Homo sapiens: one gene and its partners. The protein of the gene in region 1 purifies or fractionates together with the protein of each later gene. This does not show direct contact. Each region holds a gene or a part of one and is shown on either strand. Other genes may lie near its edges.

Region 1 (5,411 bases):
CCTGCTAAAGACCATATACAGCAGATAAACAAAAATAAATGAAACTTTACAACCATAAACTGTAAGAGTGAAGTCACCCAGAGTTTGGAGACAGAGTGGGACAGAAGTGATTTTGGTAACTGTTTTTATCACTGAAAGATGTGGTTTTACCCTTTTAAAGTTTTTTGTGCTGACTTAATGTAATTCCCCAGAAATGGCCAAGTCTCAAATTTCACAATTGTCATAAAATATTAGAACCAAAAAAAACCTTAGTGATCACTCACTTCAGATTACTCCATTTATCATCTGGCTTAATTTTAATTGGAAACCTCTTAGGGTCTCACCGATGTCTGGTGTGGGCTTAGAATTTAGAAGTTCACATTAGAGATAGTGTAGCTCAAAGTTGTTGCCTTTTTTGGTACTACCAAGTATGTTTAAAAATATTTTTTTCTCTACCACCCCCTTATGAAATTATAGTAATGCTATAAAGATCACACTTATAAAATTAACCCCACAATATTTCTAGGTTTTATATTTTTGCTCACCTAACATCTTTCCTTGATGTTTCAAAATGTCTAAGATATTGAAGAAATAAGCTCCTTAGAACTATGAAGTAGGACACAGTAGTTTCTTTAGGGACACTTGAAGAAAGTAATCATATTCTATTTAATTAGCTTACTCTCCTAGACCTAACAGACTACATCCATAACAAGTACATTTTGTCTAACTTGCAAAAAAGTGCATGGACAAAAATTCAGTAAACGTTTGATGAGAAACTATCAACCCTTAAGAAATGGCAATTTTTATAATCTTGTTCACTTTTATTAAACAGGTCCTAATCCTGAAATTCAGGTACTACGCACCTGCAACTAAAACTGAAAAACAAAAATAAAACCCAAGTGCTTCCTATTCCCCCTACGGGCTGAAAATGGGACAGTGTGACTATCTCAAGTCTCTCAAACACAAAGCCATATTCACTCAAGAGAAATCGTTTACATGTGGTTAAGGAAACAGGAAATTTTCACATTGGCTTTAATATTTACATTTTACCAAAATTTTCCTGAACTCAGTAATCATTACTAACACTTTTTATAGTATTATTTACTGCATCTTAAAAAAAAAAAACTAAGCAGAAAGTGTACAGTTGAAGAAAACTGGATGTCAGTCTATACAATGATTTACTTTTGGCATGACAGACTTTATTTTGGCACTTTCACAAATATTTTGCTTTACAGCAGTGACAAAATATTTGCCAGAAATTTTTCTTTTCCTGGCACGGATATTCCCAGCAGTTGTTATTCTATGAATTGAATTTCACTCTGCTTTGCACAGTTAGAGGTATACCCATTCCTACCCTCTGTAATTGAGGGACACAGCGTGGCTTTAGAAAGCTAGGCTATCGTTTCCTTTTAGTCACTCTAAAGTGAATTGGTTCTGTAAGTGATGGGGCAGGAATCTGAGAATTAATTAAGGCCATTAAGGATTTAAAGTAAACACTGTTCCAAGTGTTGCTTAAAAAAATGTTTTTAATGAATTATGTGGCAATTCCAGGGAATGTTCTCAAAATGAAATATTCATACTTTATTAAAAGTAAATTGTATGTTGGAAAAGTTGCTTTTTTTGCTGTCTTCTTCTGACTTGGACGGCTCACAGTTTAAAACAAAATTAGTGGTAAAATAGAAAAAGGAAATGTTTAGTACAGAAAGTACCAGCCACAGTACCCTCATAACTCCATCTCCTTCCCCAGGCATCACTCTTTCCAGCCACTTCAATCCTAAAGCAGTGAGACCCTCATTTTAACACACAGAGCCTCCCTGCCTACCCTCCTTCCCTGTAACGTGAGCTACTGTAGTCCATTTATTAGTTCTTCGGTTAAGCTTCAGTAGACATTTGGAGCACAATTCCAAAGGTAAATCAATCTATAGGCCTAAGCCTTAGATACCAACATCAGGAAAGCCCCATTCAGATCTTTGGAATTTACAGTCTTGTAAGTTATTTGCAAAAGCAGGCGTCTGTCTTAATATTGCCATCAGTTATCCTATAAAGGTTGCAAACTTCGAAATCCCCTGGCAGCCTTCCAATATCTCTACCTAGACACACACAGGATAATACATTCAGATTTCCTCTGGCCAATTCAGAAGTGAATCTGGTAATAAACAGTCTCATCGACAGGCTCTTTGGTCTTGATTTACAGACACTGTGAAACACTTAGAAATCAAACCCACGTCATCCTTGAGAGCAGACGGCCGTTAGCAAAGGGGAGATGTACATTTGATCAAAAATGTACAAAATTTATAACAGTGACATTTTCAATATTAGGCCACATGATTTATTCAGTAGTTTTTATGTTCCCAAATTACAATTTATGTCTATTCATAAGACTACAAAAGTTACCATTAGAATTGTCTGTGCTTATAAAATACCAACTTTTTTTTTAAACTGTTACATATACTCATTAACACCAGTCTGCAACAAGTTACATAGAATCAGAGGCACTTCAAAGGCTTAAAAAGACGTTTACAACTTAAATGCATTTTTAAGAACAAAAACTGATTTTTCTTTAAACCTCTACTCGTACCTTCAAATTGCAAGAAATTAACAAATACAGTGGCCAAAGGAATCTGCAGCAACTTCTTAAAATACTGTTAACATCTTTGGGTTTGCTGAGGCTTGTCAGTAACTTACATCAAATCCTCCCAAAAGAAGATCTGATTAGATAGATATGACTAAACGGTTTTGTAGTAATAATCCAATTTTACACATTAATTTGCTGTTGCAAATCTGCCCAAAGCTACAGGTAATGAAAAATAAAGCAAGTGTAAAATGGATAGTCTGACACTTAAAAATTTATACAAAGTGGAAGTTAAAGTTTACATATTTGAAAATCACATATACACTAAATTACCATTATCTGAATTTTCCAAAGACAAATTGCACCATGACAGCTACAAAAGGCATAGGGTTTGGTTTTAAGGGCACAAGAAGGGAGGGCAGAGGAGAGGAAGGGGACAACAGATAAATTAACAAAGTAAGACCAACTTGGTAAGGTCAATCTGAGACATGCTGACACAAATGAAACAGCTTTCATCTTTGAGTCATAGGAAAAAGACAATCATTTTGTATTTGCGCATAAAAGTTTAAACCAATTCCATGAACATCGAGGGTTTTCATAACATAATATTTTGCCACTGCTATTCACAGAACACTGCAGATGTTAAATTTTAATTTTATGTTGTTCTAAAGAAATACATGAAATGTTTTAAATACAATGGGATTTTATCATTAAAGTGCCAGAATGGCTCTTTAATGAAAACAAAAAACAAAGATCTTCATTATTCTATGCAAAAGCTTTATTTTGAAAAGTTCAGTGATCTCATAAATAGAGACACTAAGTTGGAGTTTTACGCATAAAACTCCTTAGTAGGTGCCTTCTGATAAGCAGCACTGGATGGTTTGCGTTCTCCAAGGTCATAGCTTCCTTCATCCTTCTTTCTCATGCGATACACCAACAGCAGGATAAGAAAAATTGCAAAGAGAAAGCCAATAACTCCACCAGCAATGACAGCTGAAACAACCAAAAGGAAGATTACTTTAGAAGAGATTCAAGGGTTGCAGACATTAGCTTTATTGTCAAGCCTAATCTACTTACACTTTTATAAAAGGCTTAATTTGAAAACCCCAATAAAAAAAAAGCTGGATTCAATGAAGCAACCTGGTAACTATGCAAATCTGAAACTCCTCAGGAAGGTACAGTAATTTCTTTGGTTAGTGTTAATAATACCACCCAAAAACCTCGATAAGAAAAATCTGGCCTTGATCTTAACTAATTCCATACTTGAAAACTACTTTTGTCTTTTCAGAACTCACATTTCATATTCTAATTTTCTAACTGCTTTTTTTCAACAGAGAACATAGTATAATTGACTTAAAATTTTAAAGAGTATACATGAAAAAAAGCATGCAAATTTATTTCTATTCTTGGATTTGAGACTACCAAGTGTGCCTAAATCTTGAAAGTTTTCCCCTTTAAAATATTTGCACTTCCATCCAATTAAGTTAAAATAGAAACAACGTTCTTAACACTTTGGGCAGTACTTATATGAACTGCCTTCCCCTAAAGAACTTTTCGTTCTCTTTATTTTGAAATGTAGAATGCCTGTGAGCAAGACTGATGGATCTCCACACTCTGCCATCTCTCTACATCCAGTTGTTCTGGATCAATTCAGATGTTAACTTTCCCTCTTTTAGGCTACCTCCTATCCCCTGCCCGATGGCTGGCGAAGAGGTAGGTTGAGGGAGCTGGCAGACAATAAAGACAATGTTTGCTGAGCCTCTTGCTTCTCGCTCTGGAATCAAGCACCCACAAGACTGCTTTCAGCAGAAAGATGACAGCAAGCTTTGCTGCACTTTTGAATATCACTTAGACTAACAGAGGCCTATGTAGGCACCCTCCCACCTGAGGCCCACCAGGCTACTCACCTGCTAGGACTTCTGTCCGTTTAAACAGACTGTCTGAGTGTTTCTCAGTATACACATTTGTATCCTCTTCGGCTGGGTCCATTTTCCTTTCTGAGTCAGAGAGGTGAACTTTCTCTTTATCAGTTTCTTCAGGTGACTGGTATGGGAAACAGGGAAAGATTACATTGATTTAAGGAAATGTGTTGGAAAGAAGAAATAATAGATGAGTATATTCCAAAATTTTTTTTTCCCCCAAAGAATGAGTTTAGGAAATAACTGGAATAATCACTTGTGTGATGTTTATAGCAATGGGTGAGTGTCATGATGGACCCATGTAGTTCATGGTTTGCACAACACCCATCGCATGATCAGGCAAGTCGGAGAGCTAGTGAGTTCATAATAATCCTAAGGACATGGTGAGGTTGTTTTAGTGGACATTTCCTAAGATTTCTACTTTCTCACCACTCTTCTAACTGCAGGTCACCATCTCCCTCTGACTGCTCCAACCCAACAGCACTGCCCCAATTCTCCCTGCTCCTTCACTTCTGAACTACACAGGGCACTAGGACAACAGTTCCCTTTCAGATATTCTCTCACGCCTGACTGGGCTTTTCCTGTCCCCACTCTGTGGGGAGCAATCCCCAAGCCTTACTCCTAATGCTTCCCCCTAGTTATATTACCTTCAGCAAACCCTAGACCAGGACTTCCAGGGACTTGGATTGCGCAAGTAGCTCCTCCCTGATCACATCATACTTCTTTTCTCCACCTTGATTTCCTCACCTGTCTAATGAACGACACTCACTGGGTCTCGGACACTGCACAATGCTCAAGCAGAAATCTATGGGAATACCTCTCACAGCCGCATCTCTAGTCAGCATTATTCCCAACAAGCCAGCAGCCTGCAGGACATTAACTGTTGGCTGTACCACCTTTAACTCTACTCGTCAAGTCTAAGTAGTAATTAATTCACTGCT
Region 2 (7,839 bases), on another chromosome or scaffold:
CTGCAACTCTTTCTATGAGTGGCCCAGTCCCCAGCCTGCTCTTTCATTGGATATCTGTGATCTGTGCCTGAGTGCATTTTTTCATCCGTCATTCAGTCAGAGACTGTGGGTCAGACCTGGCATAGCGTCTGGGGTCTCACTCTGTTGCCCAGGCTGGAGTGCGGTGGCACAATAACTCACTGCAGCCTTGAACTCCAAGGCTCAAGTGATCTTCCCATCTCAGTCTCCCAAAGTGCTGGGATTACAGATGTGAGGCACTGTGCCCAGCATTAGTATTTTAATGTTGTTGTTATATTGCCAAACACAGCTAATGGGAATTGTTTGATATAAAGAAAAAAAAGTGGGAAGACATGCTCATCTCACTACTGATCATATCTAGGACATTAACTAGATTTTTCACAAACCACATAGCTTAGGACTGTCTACTGCTTAAGACTATACTCAGGCTCAAACTTTTTTAGGGGAGAAGTAAGCATTTTAAAAACCTAAGTGGTGCCATAAAATGTCACAAAATACTTACCAGCATAAACATATACCTAATATTTCCATATAAAAGGTTTATGAAATAGTCAAAATCAAATTTGTGTGAGCTGTTTTCAATCCTTATGTCTAGCATTTTCCCCCTTCTAATAAGTTCATCTCCAGATTTAATTAACAATCTCTAATCATTTATGGTCAAAGATTTTTAAAGTTGACTTTTATTGTTTTTAGGAAACATTGGTCTGCTCCATTATAACTTTTCTTTTGTTAGAAACAGAACTTGCAGGCTGGTTATGGTAGCTCACACCTGTAACCCCAGCACTTTGGGAAGCCCAGGTGGGAGGATAGCCTGAACCTCAGGAGTTCAAGACCAGCCTGGGCAACACGGTGAAATCTCATCTCTAAAAAAAAAAAAAAAATTAGGTGTGGTGGTGCACACCTGTAGTCCCAACTATTCAGGAGGCTGAGGTGGGAGGATCACCTGAGCCCAGGCAGGTCAAGACTGCAGTGAGCTCTGATGGTGCCACTGCACTCCAGGCTGGCCAGCAGAATGAGACCCTGTCTCAAAAAGTAAATGGAATTTATGGTGGTAAAGTTCAACATCTTGTCAAGACAAAGACTGCATAGTTTCTGGAGAAATAAACCTTCTGGGAATATTTCCAAATGGAATCTAGAAGACAGTGCATTGATATAGAGGTATATTTACAGATATATTTCTACATTAATAAAGTAAAGCATAATATCCTTTATAAATTAATGTCAAGCCTAGCCCAGACACTGAAAGCCTGAATTCTGTACCCACATAATCAACAGTCTATGGAAACTCTGGGAACCATGCCACTGGTCTCCAACCTAGCATAGTTGAGAAATGACACATTCTTTTAAGAAGCATTCATCCAGGAAATGAGTGTGTCACAAAGCAAACCAGTAAAAGGACCATAACTTATTTTATGAATGAAGAATATAGGGTACTAGCCAAAGGTACAGCTCCCTTATGAGTATGTTATAATTTCTCATTCTTTTCTTTTATCACGTGATGGATAGATAGAACTCTAACAGGAAGAAAAGTAATCATGTCAGCCATAAGAATATTGTCCATGTCATCTCATAATTGTTTTTAATCCATTTTTCTATATTTATCCCTATTCCAAGATCAGATCTTTCCACCTGCCCCTCCCCAACAAAAAAAAAGAAAAAAGAATTCATAGACAAGAAGACACAAAGAAATGGGAGACAAGAAAACACAAACTAATCAATTTTATTCATACTACTCATGAAAAGCAATTACATTTTTACATAAAATCATTAACACATACAATAGAAATAATAAGAGTAATACATCTGATTAGAAATACAATATAGGAAATAGATTTTAAAATAGCATATTTTAGTGATGAAATTTATATTTTCTACTTATTTATAGCAGCATCTGTAAGATTCTTCTATCTGTTCATAGTTAACTAGCAGCAAAATATTTTAAATTACAGAAATTCAGTAGATGTTTCCCTCCAATGTTTCATTCATACAGAATGTATCACGTTAACCAAACAAAACCACTTATATTTCCTGAAGAGAAAAGGTGGGAAAAGATTTCATCAGTTACCAGCTCCCCCAAAAAAAGAAGAAACGAGGGAGAAAGGATGGAAGCTAGAAAAATTTTGCATGCAATTACTAAAAAATATATTCTCAACCACTTTGACCAATTATAGGTGGATTTTGTGAAATCTACATATGTGTGTGTTAGTGAAAGTTATGTTAACTTTATTTTCTGACTTTATACTGCAGTTGAAAAATATGTGGAAGTTTCCAGGAGGCCTGTCAGAGCCTGAAGAAGATATTGGTGTGTATCTTTTATATTTTTAATTGGCTTAAAAATGTTGAGGAAATTAATGTGTTTACTTTCTTGCTTTATAGCTAAGAATAAAAATTTAAATTTTCCAATTTGTTCCGACTGAGTCTGAACATTTCAGAAATTACCTCAGAGCTGATATAATTAGCAGCATAATTTCTAATATTACAGTTTATTCCATTAGTAGAAATAATATCATTAGGAACATACCACCTATTCTTCTGTTTATGACTGCTTCTGGATTAATCTGTCTGAAAATGAGAAGCTTTGGATATACATCAGTAAAGTTTAGCATTAAAGGTTATTTTGGATACGACTAATATTGTTGTTGGAATTAAACTATGAGAAAACAAATTCCTGACCATTCCATCACAGAGGATGAATAGTAGCCTTTAAATGAACTTTGAAATAAATATAATAAAGTCAGTTATAAAGCAGTGATTATATAATTCTTCACTTTATGAAAATTGTATCTACTATTTATTTTTAATAGTCAGGTAGTCAAAACATAGTAAAATGTCATATAAGAAAGTCTCAACTGAGAAATAATCCCCTAACACAACTTACTGAGCTCAGTATTTAAGACAAGGAAATATAAAATAAGCTAAGAATTATTTATGTCACTGATTTACAGGAAATCGAAAAATAGAAACCAAATTTTCCTACCTATTCCTTAAACTATTGGATCAAATTCAATGTGTATCATGACAAATCAATGTATTTGTTTGATACCAATATTATTTCTCCATGACCTTTTCCTTAATATGCATGTCCCCTATTCTATTTAGCCAACAATGATATTAAGGCAATTTTCTAAATTGTCTTTAAATATTTTATTTAAAAATGTCCATGTACTTAAAGCTTGATTTTTAAAACTTTTACACAAATCAAAATACCATACATACATTATATAGCCAACTCGTAACAATCCATCAGAAAATGGATTGCATTAAGATATATCTCTAGCCAATCTTGGTTTCAGGTACTTATTGACCTTTTGCTTAGTTTATGCTTATTCTTCTGTTGATATAAAAGATGATTTTGTAGTGGTGTGAATGCTGAAAGAGAAGGCCATTTGTTCTACAGCCTAATTCTCTCACACTATCCACTGGTGCCACGTGAGAGCAGAGCATGTGAGCTAATTAAGCTTATGTTTTGCAGCCTTACCCAATCTATATTGGGCAAAAAGCAGTCTGCAGGTTTGCAAGGCTTCCTCTCTCCTGCATCTTGCCTTTTCAAATAAATTGATTTTTTTCATGTGAACTCTTATGGGTCCTCTGAATTTCAGCTGTACTTACTTGTAGATGTAATTGAAGAAAAACACATTTCCAAGCCAAATATATATAATTTCAGGCCTAAGTATACTCCAGAATCCTTCTTAAAGTCCAGATGATTAAAAATTCACTACCTTTTTTTCTTTAAAAAAAAAAAAAGTGCTTGTGGTTGTCACAACAACTCACCTACCCAGAGATCATATATGCCTCAGTCATGTGGAATTAAGAAGAAAAAAACTGCCGTTGGCATTAGCCATACTTCCTAAGCTTAGTGTAAATTAAAGCTTTGCCTGAAAATTCATAAAACCCTGAAAGCAGCTAGAAATGAAAACTGACAGTAGAGGTCTGAAAGACTATGTCTATATGAAGGCATTTCTAACTCAACATAAAACAAAAGATATTCTTAATGATGAAGCTGAATCATCTAAGAATTACTGAAATTATTTAAACTCTGTATTTAGGAAAACATGCAATGTACTTTAGGAATACTGCCATCACAAACAGTTAAACATTTATATTGGCTCAAACAGTAAACCCTAGTTAACTGGGAAACACATTTGTTTGAACTCCTTCATTCTTTCATAATACTAGGTAAATGAAGAATTGTTATCCATAGTGTTTTTTAAATATCAAGAGGGTCATATAGAAAATAGAATGCAATCCTCAAGGCTTTTGTATAAAATAATACCCTAAGAGTATAAAGGTATCCACAAGATTAAAATTGACAAACTGCCTTCTTAAAAAATCGTATTACCACTGGCAGGAAGAGTATCTGCTGCATTAGCCAGAGAACTATAAAGCAGCTGAGCCTTATCAGAGATCATCAGTGCACTAGAGTCAGAGGGAAACACCAGGAAAACCCACATTCTGCAGATTATTTCCCATTATATTTTATTTCAATCTAATTCTATTATTAAATATAACAAAATAGAAATAACAAATATAAACTCCATTTCATTATTGTCCTGTAACTAAACAAAACAATACAACATATTTAAACATATCTCTTCATCAGCAAAAATAAAAACAAAACCTCTTAGTTTTTCCTATGTTCTTCAAACCTATAAAACAGCAAATGTTATTTCAGTTTGGCTTACAGTATATTAAAATAATAAAAAATACAACAGAATAAAGCACACTATCTTGATTAAAAATTTCAATTCATCTTGAAATCCTTGGGGAAGAAATATCCATCTTGAGGTGGAAGGGTCTCCCGCATACTCTGGAGACAAAAGCACTTATTTGCCCATTCAATTTTCAGTCAGTTAGTGATTCAAGTTAAACTGATCAAAACTACTCAGGCAGTGCTGATTTTCAGTCAGCTGCTATGGTGACTGCTGAGCAGGGCAGATTTGCTCACTACCCCCATCCAGTGCTTCCACGACATAGAAACAGCATAGATCATGAGCTACATGCCGAACTTTTGATTAGTGGTACTAAGAGCTAAATAGGATCCCCATAATTTATTTTCAAACATAAAGAATAAAAATGGACATTTAAACAAGTTAGGAGATGTTATATCAAATTTAAGACTAGTGCTACTATCTTTAATAATAAATTTAATAACAAACATGTATTTCCCCATAATTATTTTTCAAAGCATAATGAATAAAAATGGACATTTAAACATGTTAGGGGATATTTTATACAATTTAAGACTAGTGCTACCATCTTAAATAATAAATTTAATAACAAATGTATTGCACATCAGAGTAAAAATTACTTTTCTTATTAAGGAAAATTTCTCTTTTTTTGAGACAAAGTCTCACTCTGTTGCCTAGGCTGGACTGCAGTGGCACGATTATGGCTCACTGCAACCTTGACCTCTCAGCCTCAAGTGATCAACCCTCCCACCTCAGCCTCCCAAGTATCTGAGACCACATGTACACGCCACCATGCCTGGCTATTTTTTGTGTTTTTTTGTAGAGACGGGGTTTCACCAGGTTGGTCTTGAACTCCTGGGCTCAAGCGATCCTCCTGCTTTGGCCTCCCAAAGTGCAGGGAATATAGGCATGAGCCACTGCACCCGGCCTAGATTTTTCTTTTATGCTTTCAGTTGTTTCTAACCATGTTTAACCTATGGGCAAATCTCAATTGTAAGGGAAGTCAGCATGTAATTGAAAAATGGCAGACAAATGCCTTATGTTTTAAAACATTATACTCTTTCTATGCATCTTTCCATAGCTATTAGAGGGAAAAAACAAGAGCATATCCAGGGGATGGGTAAGACAGTCTATGGTAAGACAGTCTACAGTCACAGCACATGGGAATTGAGACATGTTTCTGTGACTTCCTCTTCTTTGCATGTTTTTCACCAGTAGAATTACTGCAAGGGCAAATATCATTTACTATTTGACAAACAAGAAAAATAGAGGCAAAACGAGTATTGGAACAAAAATCTTTGTCTGTGACAATTGTGAAGCTTTCCAGCAAAGTGGTAGAGGAAGGCAGCTTTTTAAAGGGCTTCTCCTAAATACTTTGGGAGACAATGACAGAACATCACAAAATTAGAGAAAGCCCAGTTAGAGGGACCATCTGGATGTGTAGAAAAAGCAGCCACAAAAATATGTTAATGGCAATAAAAATCCTGCCACACAAATTTGCATTTAATTGAAAAATCAACCTTATAAAATGTGAAAACCTTTGTTGAATTATAAAATTATTTATATTCCAAGTTTCTTGAAAACTGATCAAACACCTCCAGCATTTCGGTGTTGAAGAAATGAATCTAAGTTCTTTGGAATCTTATCTCAAGAAACAAAGGAACTGCAGCCATGCAAAATGTTTTAACTTTTCAATCTATATTTTTACCTTTTGGGAAAAAGAGCAGCAAGAAGTTAAAAAGAGCTGACCCCAAAAATGTACAGGTAGATAAGCCTCCAAGTAGCAGCCAAAGAAATATTCAGCATTTCAAAAGCTTCTTGAATTTACAGTGGTAAGAAAATATTTTGGGATTTCTTGATATCCACAAGGCAAAGAATTTGTATTGAAAACTTTACTTTGTTAGGGTAATGTTTTGAGCCTTTACATAATGCTACTTTAACTGAAAATCTTTGATGATACAGTTTCTAAAAGTGTAATTATTATTGATTTGTACATCTCTTTTTTTACGTAGGAGACACAGCGGTTCGAGAAGTTTTTGAAGAGACTGGTATAAAATCAGAATTCAGGTCCGTCCTGAGTATTCGGCAACAGCACACAAATCCTGGAGCTTTTGGGAAGTCAGATATGTATATCATCTGCCGCCTAAAGCCATATTCATTCACCATAAATTTTTGCCAGGAAGAATGCTTAAGATGTGAGTGGATGGATCTCAATGACCTGGCGAAGACTGAAAATACAACTCCCATCACCAGCAGAGTTGCTAGGCTGCTGCTGTATGGGTACAGAGAAGGGTTTGACAAAATTGACCTGACTGTGGAAGAACTTCCAGCAGTTTACACAGGACTGTTTTATAAACTCTATCATAAGGAACTGCCAGAGAATTATAAAACTATGAAAGGAATTGATTAAATTCACATTTATATGTTTAGAAACATGTAGACTAACGAATGACATAAGAAATAGTGGACATTTTGGATTGATTAAACATCTGACTGTGATTTTCTAATGTATATGATTTCCATGAAGAAATTTTGTTTCTAAACATGCACATTTTAAAAGCCTCTTTTCGAATAAAGCAAATGCGTGAAAAAGATCATTGCTCTAGGTAAGCTTCACTGGGTAACAGCAGATGCAATATAAAAGGGAGAATATACATTTTACAACTTTTGTTATTTTTCTTTACTGGGACAATGGTTACATATTTTACTACTGGATAAAAAATTGTTTGACCAATTATCCAAACTGAGCTATACACATTTATTTTCTTTTACTCTCATTAACAAATTTCTAAAATATACTTCTTCTTTCATGTGAAATGAGATTAGATGTGGCCATTAAAATCAGCTCTTAGCAGACATTGGAAGAAAAAGTATAGCTTTCTGCCCAGGTCCTGTTTTGGATCCAAGTTTATACTGCCCAGTTCGTTTCAGTGCCACATACCAACTGGTGTATTTCCTTGACCGGTAAGTATTGTAGTTATTAGATTCCAATCGTTCAAAAAAGAAACACTCATCCGTAACACATTTCTGAAAAATAAAGGAAGAATTACCTGTTATTATTATCATTATTATTATTACACTTTTCATATTAAATATTTATGATAGTATAATGCCTATTCTGCTCAACCAGCAG
Region 3 (9,471 bases), on another chromosome or scaffold:
GGAGCCCAGGCTAGGGACCCAGGGTGGGCGCAGCAGGGGAGATTGGCACCAGAAGCGTGGAGGAAGGGCACCTCTTCAGCCCGGCTTTTCCGCCCCTGGAGTCTGGGACAGCTCCGGAGCGTCCGGGTACTCCCTCCCAGACTGGCCCTGTTCCTTTTATCACATTTATGTCACACACGTTTTTTCTAAATGGGTTTACACTTTTGCTATTACTTTGCAGTTCGGTTTGTGTGTGTGTGACGGAGCCTGGCTGTGTTGCGCAGGCTGGAGTGCAGTGGTGCGATCTCTGCTCACTGCAGCTTCCGCCTCCCGGGTTCAAGCGATTCTCCGCCTCAGCCCCCTTAGTAGCTGGGATTACAGGCGCACGCCACCACACCTGACTAATTTTTTTGTATTTTTGGTAGAGACAGGGTTTCACTATGTTGGCCAGGCTGGTCTTGAATTCCTGACCTCAATTGATTCGCCCGCCTAGGCCTCTGAAAGTGCTGGGATTACAGGCGTGAGCCACTGTGCCCAGCCTTTTTTTTTTTTTTTTTTTAACACGGAGTCTCATTCTGTTGCCCAGCCCGGCGCGATCCTGGCTCACTGCAACCTCAGCCTCCTGGGTTCAAGTGATTCTCCTGCCTCAGCCTTCCCAGTAGCTGGGATTACAGGCATGCACCAACACGCCCAGATTTTTTTTTTTTTTTTTTTTTTTTTTTTTTTTAGTAGAGACAGGGTTTTACCATGTTAGCCAGGCTAGTCTCGAACTCCTGACCTCACGTGATGTGCGTGCCTCGGCTTCCCAAAGTGCTGGGATTACTGGTGTGAGCCACCACGCCCAGTTTTTTTTGTTTGTTTGGTTTTTTTTGAGACAGAGTCTCACTCTGTCGTCCAGGCTGGAGTGCAGTGATGCTACCTCAGCTGACTGCAAACTCACTGAACCTCTCAGGTTCAAGTGATCCTCCTGCCTCAGCCTCCAGTTCCTGGCTAATTTTTTTAGTTTTCGTATAAACGGGGTTTCATCGTGTTGGCCAGGCTGGTCTGTAATTCCTGGCCTCAAGTAATCCACCCACCTCGGCCTCCCGAAGTGCTGGGATTACAGGCGTGAGCCACTGCGCCTTGTCTGCGCCCAGTTTTTGTTTGTTTTTTAAAGAGACGGGATCTCACTATGTTGCCCAGGCTGATCTTGAAGTCCTGGGCTAAATTTTTGTCACTGTGCCTGGCTAATTTTTGTATTTTTAGTATAAATGGGATTTCACCACATTGGCCAGGCTGGTCTCAAACTCCTGGCCTCGTGATCCACCTTCCTCGGCCTCCCGAAGGGCTGGGATTACAGGCGTGAGCCACCGCGCCTGGTCTGCGCCCAGTTTTTGTTAGTTTTTTACGGAGATGGGATCTCACTGTGTTGCCCAGGCTGGTCTTGAACCGCTGGGCTCAAATCATCCTCCTGCTTCTGCCTCCCAAAGTGCTGGGATTACAGGCTTGAACGACCATGCCTAGCCATAATTATCCAGCTATAAGGTCAGCTGATTAATTCGTCTCTCTATATAATAACATATTCACAGGTTGGGAGATTAAGATGAGAACATCTTTGGAGAGGACATTATTCTGCCTTTTAGAGAGAAGGGCCTAGGACAGGAATTCCCAGTGCTCAGGTTTAAAGGAAATATGATGTTCCCATCATCGGTACATGAACGTGCCCCTTTCTCTGCATTCCTACCAACACTGGATATTTTCCACTTTTGGGACTTTTAGCAGTTGTTGAGCCAGCCCATTTTACAGCGGGGATAATTGAGGTTTAAGGAGGGGAAATTACTTGCCTAAGATCTCATGCAACTTTCTGTTTCCTGACTCCCAGTCAAGTCTGATTCTCCCTTGGTATGGCTTATATGGGAGGATATTTACCTGGTGGCTTGGAAACCACTGAATGACTTTGTATCTTCCATCCATCCATGTATCCGCAGCCCAGCGAATGTATATTGGGAGCCTCAGACATGTGACCAGGGCCTTGTGGGCCAGAGGCAGCCAGGAGACCTTTTTTTTTTTTTTTTTTTTAAGACAGAGTCTCCCTCTGTCACCCAGGCTGGAGTGCAGTGGTGCGATCTTGGTTCACTGCAACCTCTGCCTCCCGAGTTCAAGAGATTCTTCTGCCTTAGCTTCCTGAGTAGCTGGAATTACAGGCGTCCATCACCATGCCTGGCTAATTTTTGTATTTTTAGTAGAGACGGGGTTTCACCATGTTGGCCAGGCTGGTCTCCAACTCCTGACCTCAAGTGATCCACCCACCTCACTCTCCCAAAGTGCTGGGCTTACAGGTGTGAGCCACAGCGCCTAGCCAGTGCTCTTGTCTTTTGAGAGCCCCCTTTTCTCTCACCTGATCTCCCTGCCCCCTATTTTCCCCTTTAGTCTCCTTTCCAGACGCTACTGAGTAGCTTCAGGGTCAGTCTAGAGATGCAATCCAGGTTGGGATCCTTGCTGGGAGAGCCCTTCCTTCCCTGGCTTTGTAACTCAGGGCCTTCTGGTGTGCACACCTGCAGGGTCCAGGCTGGGCCTGTGCTTCTAGCTTCTCTGTGTCTCTCCCTGAGATTGGAATCCTGGCTCTGTCCTCAACTAGCTTGAAGGGGGGCCCCCAGGAATGGCCCCTTCTGGATTTCATACCCTTGTGTAACCTTGTTTCACTTTTTAAAAGATTTTATTTAAAAAGTTTTTTTTTTGTTAGAGACAGGGTCTCACTTTGTTGCCCAGGCTGCTCTCAAACACCTAGCCTCAAGCAGTGCTCCTGCCTCAGCCTCCCAAAACACGCCCGTTCACTTTCTACCAGGGTTGTGTGTGACCAGCAGATGTGTTGGAAGTGATGGTGTGTCACTTCTGAGGTTAGGTCATTAAAGACGCAGCGGCTTCTATCTTGTGTGTGTTCTCTTTTTCTTGGGCCACTCGCTCTGGGGAAAGCCAGCTGCTGGGGCTTGAAAACACACACGCCTGGGAAGAGGCCGCACTGGTGAGGGACGGAGGCCTCCAGCCCACAGCTGTGGGAACGTGGGAATGAACCTTTTAGGAAGTGAATCTTTCGGCCCTGCTCTAGCCTTTAGATGACTCAGTCCTGGCAGCATCTTGATGGCAACTTCACAAGAGAGCCTGAGCCAGACCACCCAGCCTGGCCTCTCCTGGATTCCAGACCCGCAGGAGCCATGAGTTTCTTTGTTGTTTTACACATCAAAGTTTTGAGGCAATTTGTTACACAGCAGTATATAACTAATACACCAGCTGTAGGGCTTTGGGCACGTTCCTTAGCCTCTGCACCCCCGTTTCCTCCCTCGTGCCATGAGCATTGTAGAGGCGAGTGAGGAACACGTAGACGCAGCACAGTGCCACGCACATGAGGCAGCTTTCCAGCCCCTCCCGGGATGGTTGTGGTCATTTTCTTGCCCCTCCCTGGATGGACCGTGACCTCACAACGTCAGGCCAAGTTATTGCATTCTTGGCCTGAGGTCATCCATTGGCCATAGACAGAGGTTCTCGGCAGGAAAGGGTGAGATAAAGAGAGGGGTCAGTCTCTTTCCTCCAGCCCGGGTCGGGAGAACCGTGCTGGGCCAGGTGAGACATCCGCTGTCTGTGCGGTGTCCTGGGATGAGCCACTGGACCTGACCCATGGGGAGATTTGTCTGTGTCGCCAGAGGGCGAGGGGTTTCCTGGTCTAGCTTGCCTTGGGCTTGGCCAAGCATTCTGGCTGCCACTGGGGCCCCCAGGACAACTGAGAACTGTCCTTTCTTCTTTGACCTTCAGCTGCCCCTCTCTCCCCTGTCCCCTGGTGCCTGCTCAGATGCTTTCTTCTTGTGACCCTTGACCCTTGGCCCTTGGCCCCTGCCCCGAGGCTCCTCCACCCTGGGCTCCGTGTTCTAGAGTTCACTGTGTACTAGTTCCTCAAGCTGTTTGTCCTTCACTGCTTCCGATTTTTCTGTGCATTACTCAAGAACTGCATGGGCATGTGTCAGTATAAAAAAAAATAAAGTTGGCCGGGCGCGGTGGCTCACGCTTGTAATCCCAGCACTTTGGGAGGCAGAGGCGGGCGGATCACGAGGTCAGGAGATTGAGACCACGGTGAAACCCTGTCTCTACTAAAAATACAAAAAAATTAGCTGGGCGTGGTGGCGGGCGCCTGTAGTCCCAGCTACTCGGAGAGGCTGAGGCAGGAGAATGGAGTGAACCCGGGAGGCGGAGCTTGCAGTGAGCCGAGATCGCGCCACTGCACTCCAGCCTGGGCGACAGAGACTCTGTCTCAAAAAAAAATAAAGTTGGCCGGGCGTGGTGACTCACACCTGTAATCCCAGCACTTTGGGAGGCGGAGACAGACAGATCACTGGAGTTGGAGACCAGCCCCTGGCCAACATGGTGAAACCCTGTCTCTACAAAAAAATACAAACATTTGCCTGTGTGTGGTGGCACATGCCTGTAGTCCCAGCTACTCGGGAGGCTGAGGCAGGAGAATCGCTTCAACCCGGGAGGCGGAGGTTGCAGTGAGCAGAGATCGAGCCACTGCACTCCAGCCTGGGCAACAGAGCAAATTTCCATCTCAAAAAAACCAAAAACCCAAAACAAAAAAACACAAAAAAACATTATCGACATTAACAACTACAAGGCGCCCGGCTAATTGTATATTTTTAGTAGAGACAGGGTTTCTCCATGTTGGCAGGCTGGCCTCGAACTCCTCACCTCAAGTGATCCGCCCGCCTCGACCTCCGCCTCCCAAAGTGAGCCACCGTGCCCGGCCGTGAATGTGACTTGATAGCCCAGATTTCCTTCCGTGAACGCTTGTTAGTTGTGAAACTAGCAAAGTTGCGCCTCTGAGTTTACGCAGAGCCGGCTCCGGAATCCGAGTTCCGGGTTCGAGCACAGCTCCGCCGCTACCTCGGGCGTGACCTTGGCCGGAGCCTGGTCCCCTCTGAGCCTCAGTTTCCCGGTCTGGGATGCCGGAATGACAGCTCGCCCCCTGCCCCGCCCAGCCCCGCCCAGCCCCGCCCCGCAGGCCCTGGGATTGGTTCGCGCGAGGTCCCCCTCCCCAGGCGGGGTCGGGCCTCTCCCGCCCGCCAGGCCCCAACCCGGAAATGCAGCTGGAGCGGAGGCGGAGCCCACTAAGGCCGCGGCGGAGCGACGATGGGCGCGGCCAATGGGCGCGGGCGTCGGCTGCGGCGCGACGGAAGTCCTGCCCGGCGCCGCGCGGGGGCGGGGCGGCGCCGGGGGCGGGGGGCGGCGGGCGACGGGGCGGGCGCAGGATGAGGGCGGCCATTGCTGGGGCTCCGCTTCGGGGAGGAGGACGCTGAGGAGGCGCCGAGCCGCGCAGCGCTGCGGGGGAGGCGCCCGCGCCGACGCGGGGCCCATGGCCAGGACCACCAGCCAGCTGGTGAGCGCGCGGCGGCGGACTGGACGCGCCGGTTTGTTACCCTGCCGGGTCCGGCGGCCGCCCGGGTCCGGCGAGGCGGGGCGGCCCGGGGTCCCGAGGGCCGGGTGCCTCCTTACCTGCAGCCGGGCGGCCGGGCCGGGGATGGCGGGCGCCGGCCGAGGGCGCTGCTTGGCTGCGGCGGGGAGACCGGGCCTGGGTTGCGGCGGGCGGCGGCCTGGCCGGGGGCGCTGACAGACGCGCGGAGGGCGGGGGAGGCCGGGAGGTGTCACCCGGCCCAGCGGGGTGGAAGTGCCTGGAAAGTTTGTTTTCGGCTTGGCGCAGCCTGGAGCCGAGCCTCCAGGGTTACCTTTCGGTTCTGTCTGTAGAGGAACCGCCCTGGGCTTCCACCTGGAACGGGGTCCTTGGCGCCTCCGCCTGCGAGAGAAGCAGAAGGTGCAAGTTCTTGCTGAAAGCACCTGATGCTCCTGGGCCCCCTTTTCCAGATTCTTGATGACAGTGGTCGGGAAAACTCGCCTTTCACGGCCCGGCCAAGGGGCATTTGGGTGCTTTTGCTGCCCGTGGCTGTGCTCAGCGTTGTGGGAAGCCCCTGGGAGGCCGAATGTGCAGGATCACCGAGGGGAAAGTGAGCTTGACAGGTAGGAGGGATTTTAGGGGAAGGACCAAAACAAACCACTTGTTGGGTGAAATGTTTTGCTAAAAGTGTCGCTGGTGTTTCTATATTTTCTCTCTATCGCTAAAAGTATCCCTCGTGTTTTTATGTTTTCCATATGCTAAGTTCTACAGTCTGGGGACGACGGTTTAAAAATTTATGCCTTGTATGCGATGTGCAGTGGGTGATGGAAGAACGTCTACATGGCTTTAACATTTGATTTAAAAGGCAAATATTTTAAATGAAGGAAAACCCAAGAAATTTAATTGATCCCGTGTCTTCCAGGATGCGGCTTTTTTTTTTTTTTTTTTTTGATGGAGTCTCCCTCTCGACGCGCAGGCTGGAGTGCAGTGATGCGATCTCAGCTCACTGCAACCTCCATCTCCCGGGTTCAAGCGATTCTCCTGCCACAGCCTCCTGAGTAGCTGGGATTACAGGCGTATGCCACCATGCCCGGCTAATTTTTGTATTTTTAGTAGAGAAGGTGTTTCGCCATGTTGGCCAGGCTGGTCTGGAACTCCTGACCTCAAGTGATCTGCCCGCCTCGTCCTCCCAAAGTGCTAGGATTACAGGCGTGAGCCACCACGCCCGGCAGATGTGGCTTTTTGATAGGCGTTCTTGATCTTTTTTTTTGTGGGGCGGGGAGTGGGGGGTTGTGAGTCTGTTTGAGAACCTGAGGAAAGGTATGGGCCCTCTTCTGAGAAAAAGGCAGAGTGACGCTGAATTTTGTAACTACGTCAGGAGGCTCTTGAACTTTCTGCAGCTCACTCGTGGACTTTGTAGAGATGCGTGTTAAGGAAGAAGGTTCAGCTGAGAAAAATGTTGAAGGGATGCCTTTCGCTATTTCGACATGTGTGGCTGTACACCAGAGTGGCCCGGGTAACATAAAAACATGAATTAGGCGGATTGGCCAGGCTCAGTGGAGGCTGGGGCCGAGAGTTATGTCGAAGTTTGTGAGGTTAACCTGCACCCAGTGACAGTCATGGCGAAATTTGTGAGGTTAACTCGCACCCAGTAACGCTGTTCCAATGCAAGGTGTGTATTTGGTGTCATCCACGGGAAGAGGAAAGAGCAAATTTTCTCATGGCCTTGGCAGTTCCACATGATGGACATTTCATATCTGCAGTTTTCTTCGCATGAGATGGCTTTTTTGCACAAAAACACTGGAATCCAGTGAGCAAGAATGATAGAATGCAAGATGGATTTCCACATGAGGAAGTGTCACGAACGAGCGTTTTGCATCTGTCAGCTGGATTCCCCCATGTGTACGTATGTGAGAACATGCCGTGTTTCCTGTCTGTAATGGTAGAGGCAGCCCTGATCCTGGATTTTCACCTGAGGATGGATAGATCTTCAGGGTTCAAGTGGGTTTGCATCTGGACTTTAGGGTGGCCCTGTAGGCCCTGTGTGAGAAGCCCCCTTCCCAGTGAACTTTCCCTTGTGTGTCCGCGTGGACAGCCAACAGGGGGAGCAGTGCGAGCGTGAAGGCAGACAGTGGCCTGGCCCAGTCTGATGCTAAGTGGGCCAGAGGCAGTGAGTACCATTTCTTGATCTGACTACTCAAGACAGGCGCTTCCCTAGGTACTTTCACACCTCATTGCGAGGTAGGTGTTGTTCCCATTTTACGGGTGCAGAAGCTGAGCTGCAGAGGCGTTAGGTACCTGCCTCATAAGTGGTAGAGACTCCAGTGTCACCCTGCCCCTCACGTTCGGAGCCCCTGAGGGAGGGTCTGCCGGGCAGCTCAGCCCAGCACTCTGTAAGGAAATCTTCAGTGCCACTGCCCAGGATGTCTTCCCAGGGATTGGGCCTGAATGTCTTGACCATGCCGTGCTGGAGGTAGGAGGGGTGTCTTCATATGGAAGAACTGTACATATTTCTTTGGCAGATGGCTGAACTCTGTGACCCCGGGGCCTGTTTCAGCCTCCTGCTGTCAGAAAGCAGCTGTTTGGGAAGAGGCTGTGATTCGGCCTTGTTTGAGGGCCGATACTCTGAATGGGTGAGGCTTGAAATCCTCCCTTTGGAACAAAGAAACATGTAATGATTTTGCTGAAGGTAGAATTGGGGGACTAGGCAGAGTGGCCTCCTGCCCTCCCTAGGGTGGTTCTGTCTTTTGCAAAGGTGGCTGCATCCTTAGGGGAAGGTGAGGGGAGAAGCAGGGAGCATGGAGAGAAGTGGCTTTCGATTTTCTCTCTCCTTTTGGGGAGTTCCTCCTTATGTGGCTGGTCTGGTGCATAGTGTGATGTATTCCTGTACGCAACGTTGCCCTGACAGCCAGTCCAAGCTGAGTCTAGAGCTGGCAAGGTGAGCTCCCAGTGGTAAGAGGGAAGTGGTTTGTTCTGCTTTTCTGAGATGTGTTCTTATGAGAAGGATCCAGCAGCAGCCTGCAGAGATGTGGGGCCTGAAAAGAGGCCTTGGGCAGCTCTTCTTGACAGGTCTTGGCCCTCTAGACTGCCTTCAGCACAGTTTTGGGGAGAAACAGGGAGTGTTCCTTTTTCAGTCTATGCACTCATCCCCTGAGCCGCCTGACCCAGGGTTTAGATGCTCCAGGGCAGCTGATTGACACCGGTGGGAGACGGAGTCTGGCAAGCAGGTGATGAACTGGGAAGCGCTGCAGAAATGAGGGGGCAAGCGTGGCCAGTCCCTTCTGAGAGGATGTGTTTGGAAGAGAGTGGGCACTGGCGTGGCACTTTCCCCTTCTGAGGAAATGGACAGGATGCCACGTGGTGCTGCAGTTCTGTGTGGGGCAGGTTGTGGCTGCAGAGAAGCCCTGGGTGCAGAAACAGTCCCCCAAGCAGGTGCGAGGGCCAGGGTGCTCTATGCTGCTCCACACCTGCTGTGCGATGACATGTGGCCACTGGGCTGCCCAGCACAGTTGTTTAGAAAGCAGGTTCAAAGGGCAGTGTGCTGGGAGGAAGTGCTGCTGTGGAAACTGCAAGTTTTGGACATGAGTTGCTCAGGTCTTTTCAGCCGTGCATTCTTCTACAGCAGAATTGCATTATTCACTTGCTCAGTGTGATACCATGTCCTTTAAAAAATTATTTGAATATTGAGAACAGGTTGTATGTTCCGTCTCTAGCTGCTAGATCACAGGCAGGGCACATCTTCTCAAAGAGTAACAAGGCATGGGTTGTGTGTGTTCTCTTCTCTTAGTGAGGAGAAAGGCCTGTTTGGGTTCATGATGATTGTTGGGGTCTCTTTTCTGTACCTGATGTTGGTTGCACAAAGTCCGTTTCCATTCTCTTAGTCTAGACAATTTTCCTGATATTTAAACTGGAATTTTTGCTCCAAGAAATTCCAGGTCATTTAGAATGTGTTAAGATTGAGTTTCTGGGCTACACATCCCTTATAAGAGCACCTGATTCTGGTTTCTGTTTGTTTATTTATTTATTTTTTCGAGACAGTCTCGTTCTGTCACGCAGGCTGGAGTACAGTGGCATGATTT

Evidence for each region. Proteins that work in one complex are often made in the same cells at the same time.
Region 2: the proteins of SDC2 (region 1) and FGF2 purify together in Homo sapiens (affinity purification with mass spectrometry; 5 studies listed by BioGRID and IntAct, with this or other methods). This does not show direct contact.
Region 3: the proteins of SDC2 (region 1) and PDPK1 purify together in Homo sapiens (affinity purification with mass spectrometry; 5 studies listed by BioGRID and IntAct, with this or other methods). This does not show direct contact.

What each region holds. Positions count from the first base shown.
Region 1 is NC_000008.11:96,607,518-96,612,928, reverse strand, and holds the end of SDC2 (syndecan-2 precursor), read right to left. Parts: intron 4,595-5,411; coding exon 4,459-4,594; intron 3,545-4,458; coding exon 3,381-3,544; 3' UTR 1,139-3,380; downstream 1-1,138. UniProt on the Homo sapiens protein: Cell surface proteoglycan which regulates dendritic arbor morphogenesis.
Region 2 is NC_000004.12:122,892,105-122,899,943, reverse strand, and holds the end of FGF2 (fibroblast growth factor 2 isoform 18 kDa), read right to left. Parts: intron 7,734-7,839; coding exon 7,548-7,733; 3' UTR 7,117-7,547; coding exon of another isoform or gene 6,719-7,116; 3' UTR 2,321-6,718; coding exon of another isoform or gene 2,266-2,320; 3' UTR 1,708-2,265; downstream 1-1,707. Other genes in the region: NUDT6 (nucleoside diphosphate-linked moiety X motif 6), read left to right, coding at 2,266-2,320, 6,719-7,116. UniProt on the Homo sapiens protein: Acts as a ligand for FGFR1, FGFR2, FGFR3 and FGFR4. Also acts as an integrin ligand which is required for FGF2 signaling. Binds to integrin ITGAV:ITGB3.
Region 3 is NC_000016.10:2,532,757-2,542,227, forward strand, and holds the start of PDPK1 (3-phosphoinositide-dependent protein kinase 1), read left to right. Parts: upstream 1-5,264; 5' UTR 5,265-5,356; coding exon 5,357-5,380; intron 5,381-5,862; exon of another isoform or gene 5,863-6,015; intron 6,016-7,079; exon of another isoform or gene 7,080-7,294; intron 7,295-9,471. UniProt on the Homo sapiens protein: Serine/threonine kinase which acts as a master kinase, phosphorylating and activating a subgroup of the AGC family of protein kinases.